Linked DNA regions of Homo sapiens: region 2 is linked to region 1. The links come from fine-mapping of genetic effects on gene expression. A gene starts in region 1. The other region holds a variant in brackets. All regions are shown on one strand. Distances are from middle to middle. Region 1 holds the start of MSL1 (MSL complex subunit 1). Region 2 overlaps CASC3 (CASC3 exon junction complex subunit).

The links.
Region 2: its variant is fine-mapped to the expression of MSL1 in whole blood (INTERVAL, PIP above 0.99).

Annotation. Positions count from the first base shown.
Region 1 is chr17:40,118,913-40,124,280 of GRCh38, reverse strand. MSL1 (MSL complex subunit 1) reads right to left here and starts at 2,310. Exons shown (of 9, transcript NM_001365919.1): 1 at 901-2,310. The coding sequence starts at 1,668. LOC124904001 (a long non-coding RNA gene) reads left to right here and starts at 2,441. Exons shown (of 2, transcript XR_007065752.1): 1 at 2,441-2,497; 2 at 2,868-3,752. RefSeq lists an enhancer at 831-1,469 and silencers at 1,170-1,619, 1,670-1,719, 1,820-1,959, 2,020-2,229, 2,270-2,469 and 1 more.
Region 2 is chr17:40,165,790-40,171,157 of GRCh38, reverse strand. It overlaps CASC3 (CASC3 exon junction complex subunit), which reads right to left. Exons shown (of 14, transcript NM_007359.5): 8 at 4,297-4,361; 9 at 3,546-3,660; 10 at 3,210-3,308; 11 at 2,741-2,955; 12 at 1,712-1,834; 13 at 1,496-1,560; 14 at 1-711. The coding sequence ends at 1,537. Among named protein-coding and RNA genes, the nearest start is that of MIR6866, 6.5 kb to the right of the region's middle. RefSeq lists an enhancer at 2,535-3,094. The variant T/C (reference allele first, on the strand shown) is at 2,623.

The sequences.
Region 1 (5,368 bases):
TGTTTATTTTTAGGCAGCTGTAAGGTATGCTAGCACAGTAATACCCCCCACCCCAGCTTCCCTCATATCTGAAGGAATATGTTTTAACGCAGAGATGCCCTTAACTACTGCTGCAGTAAAAACAAGCCTGTGTCGTCCAAGCTCCTCAGAAGTAAAGAAATAATAAACGACTTTCCTACTCCCTAAGATTCTAAAATAAGGATGGGGAGGTCTATTTAATACATTTAATAAGCTTACTTTCCCCTGATGCCCTAAAATCTTCCAGTTTCAAACACCATGCTTATAAAAGGGACCTGGTCAGTGGGTCATGTATTAGAACTCAGGTTCCTATTAAAAGCTGTCTGAAATCAAAGGCAGTGATTCTCTTAATATCATTTAAGAAAACTAAAATAGGATTCCACGTAAATCACCTCTACCCCTGTGCCCACTAAAAGGCCTACTGCCCTCCTATCTAAAGATGCTGCAGCAGTGGTGAAAGCAACAGCTGCTTGCTACAGCCCTCTCCTCCACCGTGCATTTCTAACGCAATAGCTCTTTAATTTAACCCTTCCATAAGGACACAACACCTACACCCCACCCTTTCATTTTTAACCCCTCACAGATCACGTCTTTTTCCACTAAACGTCTTTCCCACACGTCTGGGGCTGTCATTTTAAATTAACCCTTTGGCACCTGAAACCCCTCCCCCTCCCCCTGAGAGGTTGCCCTTTAACCCTTCCCTCCAACCCAACGTGTCTGTGAGCCTGGCTCCCAGAGACCCAGCGCCTAAGATACTCCTTTGCCGGTGGCCAACCTCCTTTACCCCTAACCCGGGGGTGCCTTAACCTCCTACAGCCCCCTTCCCCCGAGCATGCGCACAACTCGCTCCTCGGCCCGAATGCAGATTAACCCCTCCCGTACCGTGTCTCTCTCTGACTTCAGCTCCTCGATCTCCTTTTCCTTGGCCTGCAGCTGCTGCTGCTGCTGTTCGATGAGGTCCAATTGCAGCAGAAGGATCTGTTTGAGGCAGGCGGCCTGACTGGAGGCTCCCGAGCCGCCACCACCCCCGAGAGGGCTCTTCCTCATACTCTTCCATCTGCCCTCGCTGGCCGCCAGGGTCCCGGCGGTGGCGGTGGGCGCGAGGGGTGGCGGCCCGGGCAGAGGTAGTGGTGGGGGTCCCGCCGGGTCCGAGGCGGTGGCAGCGGGGGAGGCCGCCCCACCCTTGTCCCCAGCCCAGGGCGTAGGCTCTTTGGCCGCCGCCACGAGAGAGCCCGTCTGAATGGGCAGCACCGCCTGATACTTGGGCCGGGGGCTGCAGCCGGCTCCGGCTGCGGCAGGCTCCCCCCCAATGCCGGCTTGCTTGGTGGCCGGGGGCGGACAGGGCAAGGGCACCGAACCGCCCCAGCTCTCTTCCTGCTGCCCGGGGGCCGCCCCGGCCGGGAGTAACAAGCCCCGGCCCTTGCCGCCGCAGCCGGCCGGGGAAGGCGCGGGGCTCCCGCCCTGGGAGGAGGCCAGCGGGGGCCCCGGCTCCTTGAGCTTACGGTGCCGGGGGAGGAAGTGGGCTTCGGCCGCCCCAGGCTCGTCCTCGGGCCCGCCCAGCGCCGCAGCCCGCTCGTAGTCCAGTCGCTGCTCAGGATTGCCGCCGGCAGGGGCCGCGGCCGCCTTGAACACCGCGGATCTCATGGTCATAGTGGTCCGGAGCAGCGCCGGGCACCGAGGCGGAGGAGGGGGTGGGGAAGGGGCGAGGTGCGGGGGGTCGAGGACTGAGGGGGGGGAGGGGAGTTTGGCGGGCTCGCCTCAGCAGCGCGGCAGCAGGCCTCCGCTAGCGCGGCTCCTCCGGGGCCCGGGCGCCATCCCGCCGGCGTGCGGAGACGTGGAGGCCGCGGCTGAGGCCCGCCGCCGGCCCATGGGGGCCTCGCCGCCGCCTCTGCTGCCGCCGCCGCCGCCTTCGCCTCAGAGGCAGGAGCTCGCACCCAGCCGCCCCCGAGCTCATCCCCGGAGCTCGCTTCGGCCCCCCCTGGCCCGGCCGGGCCCGCCTCGTCTCCCCACCCCGCACCCCCCCTTCCCCGCCCCGGCCCCCCGCCCCGGAGCTCGCCTCAACCGCCCCGAGCCTCCATTTCCCCCCCCTCCTCCTCAGGAGGGGGTGGAGGGCTGGGTCCGCCCAAAGCCCTCCTACTCCGGGAGAGGGGGTCTGTCGCCTCTCCCGGGGGTCTCCGCGGCTCGGGGTCCCCCTCCCCCACAGTCACCCCCGGCGCCTCAGCGTTTCCCTTTAAAAAAACGGAGCCGCTCGTAGCCGCCACCGCCGCAGCCGCCGCCAACCGGAGGACGCATGCGCGGGGAGGGGAGCGGGCGGGAGTGCACCGGGAGCCGAGAGGAGGGAGGCGGGCCGCGCTATTGTGAAAGGGGCCGCCGCCGCCTCGAGGGGGGCAGGGAGGGGACCGCGGGGGCCGGGGGCCGGCGAGGGGAGGCCGGGGCTGAGGGGCGAGGACCGAGGAGCGCGCGGAGGAGCGGGGTGAAGGTGGGCTGCCGAGGGAGGGGCGAGCCGGGGGAGGGTCTGGAGGGGGAAGAAGGGCGAGGGCGGCCGCGGGAAGAAGGGGAAAGCGGAGGCTCCCCGGGAAAAAAGCGCGAGAGAATGGAGTTGAGAGGAAAGAAGGAGGATACAGGCGGCCAATGTGTGGCCTACGTGGGAGCGCCCCGAGCGCTCCACGTCCCCGGCCTGCGCCGGGCGGCCCCTTCCCCGGGCATCTTGGCAACGCGCCTGGCCCAAGCCGGAGGGGCCCCGCGGCCCCGCACGCCTCCTGGACCAGTCAGGATCCAGGCTCCTCTTTGAGCCCGCGGGTGTTTCATGGGGGTAGAAGTCTAACCCCTCCACCCCCTCTCCTCCCCAGCAGTCCCACGCGGGTATGGGAGAGAATGAAGTTCTTTGTCTCTAAGGGATTCAAACCAGAAACGGAGGGACCTCTGGTTCCCAGAGGGAGGAAAATCCATGATGTCTGCTGCCCAGGGAGCTATTGCCACCGCCTCCTTGGGATGAAGTATTGCCAGCTACCAACAGTTCCTTCCCAACGGCCATCTTCCAGCCTTCTTAAACGACTCCTAGCATCTTCGGGAGGCTCCTGAAGGACTGAAGCAAAGGAAATCTCTGAAGGGATTTAGTCCTTGAAAGGGAGTAGGGATACTTAGGGTGTTCTGTGTTGAGCGCTTCTTCCTATCTCTCCAGCTTCATGTATGTGTGTCTTTATGTCCAAGCAATTGAGCCAACAAGTCCTCAGAATTCCTTGTGAAAAAAACGTTTTTTTTTTTTGAGACGGATTCTCACTCTGTCGCCCAGGCTGGAGTGCAATGGTGAAATTCAGCTCACTGCAACCTCCGCCTCCGGGGTTCAAGCGATTCTCCTGCCTCAGCCTCCCGAGTAGCTGGGATTACAGTCACGCGCCACCACGCCCAGCTAATTTTGTATTTTTAGTAGAGACAGGATTTCTCCTTGGTCAGGCTGGTCTGGAACTCCCGACTTCAGGTGATCCGCCCGCCTCGGCCTCCCAAAGTGGTGGGATTACAGGTGTGAGCCACCGTGCCCAGCCCTGAAATAGTCTTAATTGCTTGTTTTTCTTTTTTGTCTGAGGTGTGCTTTTTAAAATCTCTATGGAGATGGAGAAGACTGACATTCTCTGGCCTGATGTGAAAACCTCTCATTAAAACTGTGTCTGTGCTTTGTGGGCTGAAAGCATGAAACACTGGAAATTTTAAACAAACGTATGTGAATGTGTTAAGAAGCCAAGAGTCCGGCCCTCTTTCACCAGACTGTATGGCCTCAGATCAGCAAGGGAAGTATTGAGCTTAGGGACACCAAGTAATGGAGTGAGCAGGGATGAGAGGGCACATAGAATGTGGTGATCTCTTTCCATGTCAAGGCTTGTGTGTTTGTGGCACTGGGGTCTTGCTGTGTCCCCAAGGCTAGAGTACAGTGGCACAATTATGGTTCACTGCAGCCTCAACCTCCAGGGCTCAAGTGATCCTCCCACCTCAGTCTCCTAAGTAGCTGGGACAACAGGCTTGGGCTGCCACACCTGGCTAACTTTTTATTTTTTTGTAGAGACGGGCCTTTGTAATACCAGCCTTTGTTGCCCAGGCTGGTATTGAACTCGCTCAAGCGATCCTCCCACCTGGGCGTCCCAAAGTGCTGGGATTATAGGAGTGAGCCACTGTGCCCAGCCTTCAGCGTCAAGACTTTCTGCACCATCTCTACGCTGACAGCTCCGTAATTTATATTTCTTTCTGGACTCATCCCCTAACTCCAGAATCATATATCCAACTGTCTAGTATACATACCCAGTTGGATGTCTAATAGGTATTTCTTTTTTTTGAGGTGGAGTCTTGCTCTGTTGCCCAGGCTGGAGTGCTGGAGTGCAGTGGCACGATCTCGGCTCACTGCGAGCTCCTCCCGGGTTCACGCCATTCTGCCTCAGCCTCCCCAGTAGCTGGGACTACAGGCGCCTGCCACTACGCCTGGCTAATTTTTTGTATTTTTTAGTAGAGACGTGGTTTCACTGTGTTAGTCAGGATGGTCTCATCTCCTGACCTCGTGATCTGCCCGCCTCGGCCTCCCAGAGTGCTGGGATTACAGGTGTGAACCACCGCGCCCGGCCTAGGTATTTCAAACTTACATCTAAAAATCAAGCTCCCGAATTCCTCCCACCCAAACACCCAAATACCACTTCTACAGTCTTACTCTTTTTTTTTTTTTTTTTTGAGACGGAGTCTTGCTCTGTTGCCCAGGCTGGAGTGCAGTGGCACAATCTCAGCCCACTGCAACCTCTCCACCTCCCGGGTTCAAGCGATTCTCCTGCCTCAGCCTCCAGAGTAGCTGGGATTACAGGCATGCACCACCATGCCCAGCTAATTTTTGTATTTTTAGTAGAGACGGGGTTTCACCATGTTGGTCAGGCTGGTCTCAAACTCCTGACCTCATGATCCGCTCACCTCAGCCACCCAAAGCTGGGATTACAGGCGTAAGCCACCGCGCCCAGCCCAGTCTTCCTCTCTTTGTCACCCCATTGCCTTTCAAAATGTATGTCCAAGGCTGGACGTCGTGGCTCGTGCCTGTTACCCCAGCACTCTGGGAGGCCGAGGTGGGCGGATCACAAGGTCAGGAGATCGAGACCATCCTGGCTAACATGGCGAAACCCCGTCTCTACTAAAAATACAAAAAATTAGCCAAGCATGGTGGCGGGCGCTTGTAGTCCCAGCTACTCGGGAGGCTGAGGCAGGAGAATGGCGTGAACCCAGGAGGCAGAGCTTGCAGTGAGCCGAGATCGCGCCACTGCACTCCAGCCTGGCGACAGAGTGAGAGTCCGTCTCAAAAAAAAAAAAAAATTTAGCCGAGCCTGGT
Region 2 (5,368 bases), 47 kb before region 1:
AAACCTAAGTCAAAGAGAAGGGCTCCTACCCACCTACTCTGAGCTTTTCTGCACAATGGGACCCTCTGTGCAGACAGCCATGCTTCCACAGGGTTAGAGTTAAGGGAATACAAGTATACAAGAGGATAACAAATGCCAACTAAAAGTGAAAGGCCAGGTCTTTTTAGACTTGGTGGGGAAGGCTGGCTGATACATTCTCCATTATCTGGGATGCACGGAAGAGTCAAAAGGGAATCCAGAGGGGCTAGAAAACCAGAAGACTAGACTTGTTTCATTTAAAGGCAGGGAGAGAGAGCAAGAAACAGAAACAAAGAGAAAAAATTAAAATAATATTAAGGATAAGAAGCCAGGCTTTAAAAATGAACATCTTAGAAAACAAAACAAACAGGAAGGAGCTTCCTTGGGAACAGAAGACACTTCAATTTCCCAGAAGTGAAGAACAGCAGAAGACATGGGCTTCTGTATCTAGACTCAGAAGCTTGGGGCTGTCTGGCTCTCTCTGCTCCCCCGAACACAGCCAACTCAAGTGAAGAGTGAAGATGGGACGAGGTCCACTTGTTTCTCCCTCTCTCTAGAGCCTGTCCTCAGAGGAAGGCAGGGGTCCTCCTCTTTCAGCTGTTTGCTGGTAGGAGCCACACCCTATATCTTTGAAGCCCTTCTGGTAGTAGATAGCCAGCTGTATTTCTCTTCTGAGTTCTCACCTCTGCTGCTCTGACAGGGGTTGGAAAAAGGGAAGAACCACCAAAGTGTTAGTGGGCCTTCTGGGCATTCACAAGCTGTTTTCAAAAAGCCACACTTCTAAATAATGTGTTTTAAGTAATGTCCTTAAACAAAAGCAACAAAACCCCCAGTCCTTCTCCTCTATGATCTTTAGAACTGGTTTTTTCTGCTATAACATCTCAAATTTAGATTTCCCTTTTCCTTGACTGCCTTCCTGTATTTTTTCCTTGTAGCTTCCCAATTGAAAACTGTCATGTTAACAATCGTTTCTACTTCAACCCTGCCCAATACACTTGCCAAACAAACAAACTGGCAAATTTCAGGACTCCTTTAAGCCTCCTGAGATATCCCATGATTATTATAACTTAAAGCATTAATCAGAGGCTGGGTGGGGTGGCTCACACCTGTAATCCCAACACTTTGGGAGGCCAAGGCAGGTGGATCACCTGAGGTCAGGAGTTCAAGACCAGCCTGGCCAATATGGTGAAACCCCATTCCCACTAAAAATACAAAAATTAGCCAGGTGTGGTGGTGCGTGCCTGTAATCCTAGCTACTTAGGAGGCTGAGGCAAGAGAATCGCTTGAACTCAGGAGATGGAGGTTGCAGTGAGCCGAGATTGCACCACTGCACTCCAGCCTGGATAACAGACTGAGACGCCGTCTCAAAAAAAAAAAAAAAAAAAAAAAAAAAAAAAGCATTAATTAAGTGATTTTTGTTTATTAAGCAAGTGTGAGCATTAGTTTTAACAATATTCACAGTAAGTTGTGCACTTACTTTTATATGATGTTAAGATTTAAAATATTCAGAAACTTGTATTAACTGGAACCCCTGCTTACAACCTGAAATAACAAAGTTGGAATTTGTTATCAGGTCATAACAAAAAGACTGTTTTCCAGAGAAACACACCCAGAAAATGAGGGAAATCCTCTGGGGAGAAGGAAAGCCCACTGACGGAGCATGTGCATTAAGTATAGGAAGGAACTCTCATACCTCAGGTGGAGGGGGCTTGATGGTGACTGGCTGGGGAGTCCTCCGGGGTGGGGAGGGCTTTGGCTGCACCTGCTGCTGGGCGGGGTTATAGTAGGTCACTCCTCCATATACCTGTGATGGGGCCTGGGACCCCACAAGCCAGGAGAAGAAAAAGTTAGGAATGAATTCATCCAACCTATGATGAACAGGAAATATTATTCAGCCATAAGAGAATTGGGGAATTTATAATTTTAAAAATATCTAATCTGCCCACCCTTCAAAATAAAGTGACTATTCATTTTTGCCTTAATTCTTCATTATTATGCTCTGGTTTTTATTTCTTCAAAGTACTGCCCAGCTTTCTCTAATTCCTACCATCAGCTGACAAATGGAAAAGGCTGAGTTCAGTAGCGACACTACAGATACTTGATTATGTCAACGTGGTGGAAGTTAAGCAGGACAGAGGTAGGGGTGATAAGGAGTAGAATACAGCTTCTTTATGCAATAGAGTAAAAACCAGGTATTGCCACCTATGATGTACCACAACACAGGAAAGAAACACCATTAAAGAAACTGAACGCTGGGTGCGGTGGCTTATGCCTGTAATCCCAGCACTTTCGGAGGCCGAGGCAGGTGGATCGGTTGAGGTCAGGAGTTTGAGACCAGCTTGGCCAACATGGTGAAACGCCATCTCTACTAGAAATACAAAAACTAGCCGGGCATGGTGGCAGGCACTGTAATCCCAGCTACTCGGGAGGCTGAGGCAGAAGAATCGCTTGAACCCAAGAGGTGGAGGTTACAGTGAACCGAGATCACGCCACTGCACTCCAAGCCTGGGCAACGGAGAAAAAAACTGAAAAGAATAAAGATGATGGGCATTACATAAGCTGCATTTCCAGCTCCTGACCACTAAGAGGCGTCTTGGTGTCACA[T/C]ACAAATCAGTGGCACTGAAAATGTTCTCTCAAATTCCTTTAGCATTCTCCCCATACCACATTCCTGTCTGAATTAAAGAATGTGTATCTAGAAAAACATGATCATTAGCCATCTCACCTGTGTATTAGGATACAGATGAGGCGGTGGTGGGGGAGGCAGTGCCCCTGGAGCATAAGGGTAACTGGGATTACCAAAGTTCATGACGCCTGGAGCAGAAAAGTAAGTAGGAGCAAGCAACTGCTGAGGTGGTGGCTGTCCTGGAGACATGGACACTGGTGGGGGATAGAGGCCTGGATTGGGCAGAGGAGCTGGTGTCTGGTGGGGATGTAAACCTGGATAAGGAGAAGAAAAAAACTGAAAAATAAAGTAACATCATTTTCACAGGATGGCCCGGCTGGACTGCTCAGTATAATCAGGCTCAGAATGGAAGTCCTCAGGATGGACACAAGAGGAACTTGTTGCCCAAGCAGCCAGGATGGCCAGACTCCCAGGCTAGCAGCACAAAGCTCAGGAGGATGGGTTTTGTGGCACTCCCAACATATATCCTCAGGTACTGGAAGCATATAAGCAGAGACACAAAGCTTACCTGGGTGGGGAAGGTTCATTCCTGGCTGCACAAGCATGCCCTGTGGAGGCAGCGGGGCAGGGCTGTCACCATGGGTATAGATTGGTCCCTGGAACTGCACTGTAAGATATCACATTGGGACTCTCATAAACCCTTACTCTTCACATGGACAAGTCTCCTTGTTCCCCAAGCCCTTTAAAAGATGTTCTCAATATTCCATGCGAAGAAAACAGCAACCAGACAATGTTTGATAACCACTATAAGAGGTCAGAAGAGAAATTCAGGAGCCAGGAGCCTGGTATCTTACTTCACTTCACCCTGCCAAGAAAAGTACCCCAACAGTAAGAAAAAACTCACGTGGATCATAGTAATGTCCCTCCATGATACTGATATGCACTGGAGGGGCGGGGGGCTCTGGCACAGGTCTTTGCCGCTGGGATGAATAGCGTTTGGCTCGACCACCCTGGACACCCTGAGACAAAGAAAGAGGCCTAAACAATAAGAATTCTAGAGGGCTCTCATATCAAGTCCTACCTTCCTTTAGGTGTTGAAAAACACTTGGTACATGGCAGGTATTTAATGGATATTTGCAAAGTGAGCTGAAAAATAATGAAAAGATATCAAGATTTGAACCTAAACCTTCTACCTTACATTTAGGAGATCCAAATTAAAAGAAACATGCATAATCAATGGAAAAACTGACTTTATCTTGGCCGGGCGTGGTGGCTCATGCCTGTAATCCCAATACTTTGGGAGGCCAGGGTGGGTGGATCATGAGGTCAGGAGTCAGGACCAGCCTGGCCAACATGGTGAAACCCTGTCTTTACTAAAAATACAAAAATTAGCTGGGCATGATGGCACGTGCCTGTAATGCCAGCTACTCGGGAGGCTGAGGCAGAATTGCTTGAACTGGGACCCAGGAGGCAGAGCTTGCAGTGAGCCGTGATCCCGTCACTGCACTCTAGCCTGGGCAACAGAGCGAGACTCTGTCTCAAAAAAAAAGAAAGAAAGAAAAGAAAAAAAAAAAAGACCTTATCTTGGTTTAAACAATGAACAAGCTGTGTAACAGGCAGCTCCCTCCCCCATCTACCCCTTTCCCCTTCTGTACCATTTCTTCCATCCGGTTAAACTGAGGTGGAGGTCCTGCTCCCATGTGTATATGGTTGGGCATACCTGTAATACACCAAAAAAGTCACTTCTGCAGATCAGACATACGTGAGTGGGACTCAAAGATACTATCAAGAGACAGGTTTAAGTGTCAACATAAGGAATGCCTTTTTTCTTTTAACTAATAAAATTCTCTATAAACTATCTCTGCTTTCTGTCAACACCAGCATTTAGAAATTTGTCCCCACTGTCTGCCATCTTAATATAGCAATAAAGCCCTTGAAAATGAAAAATAAAATGACTTCAGTGAAGAAAATCAAATTCAAATTTTTTCCTATCAAATTGTTCCCTGCATAGAATCCCTGAGAGATTATAATTAGCACATTACATTATCCAACATATTGAAAAATCTCAGCCCAAGAGTTTCTGAGCAACAGCTGGACAAGGGAGGGATGCTTTGTAAATCTACTTGATTATATCCATTCACAGGGGTCTGGGTTGGAAGTTTGAAAGGAGATTCTCCTCTGGCTAAAATGACTCAAGACAAAAAGGAATGTTCTAGAGATTGTCCTCCAATAGTAAGAAGGGTGCTGCAACTCCAATTGAGGAGTTCCAATATTTAAGTTAGATTTCAGACTAAGGGAAGATCCTTTGATCTATCTGGCTGGAGAAAAACAAACCACAATAGGCAAAATGGGTAATAGGTAGGTCTTACTCTCTAAAACTATGCTGCCCAATATGATATCCACTAACCAAATGTGGACACTTAAGTTTCAATTAATTAAAAGTTCAATTCCGGCTGGATGCAGTGGCTCATGCTTATAAGCCCAGCACTCTGGGTGGCAGAGGTAAGACTGCTTGAGCCCAGGAGTTCAAGACCAGCCTGGAAAACACAGTGAGACCCCCCGTCTTTTCAAAAAATAAAAAAAATCAGCCAGGTGTAATGATGTGTGCTTATGATCTTAGCTACTGAGGAGGCTGAGATGGGAGGATTGCTTGAGCCCTGGAGGCGGAGGTTGCAGTGAGCCAAGGTCACGCTACTGCACTCCAGACTCTAGCCTGGGTGACAAAGT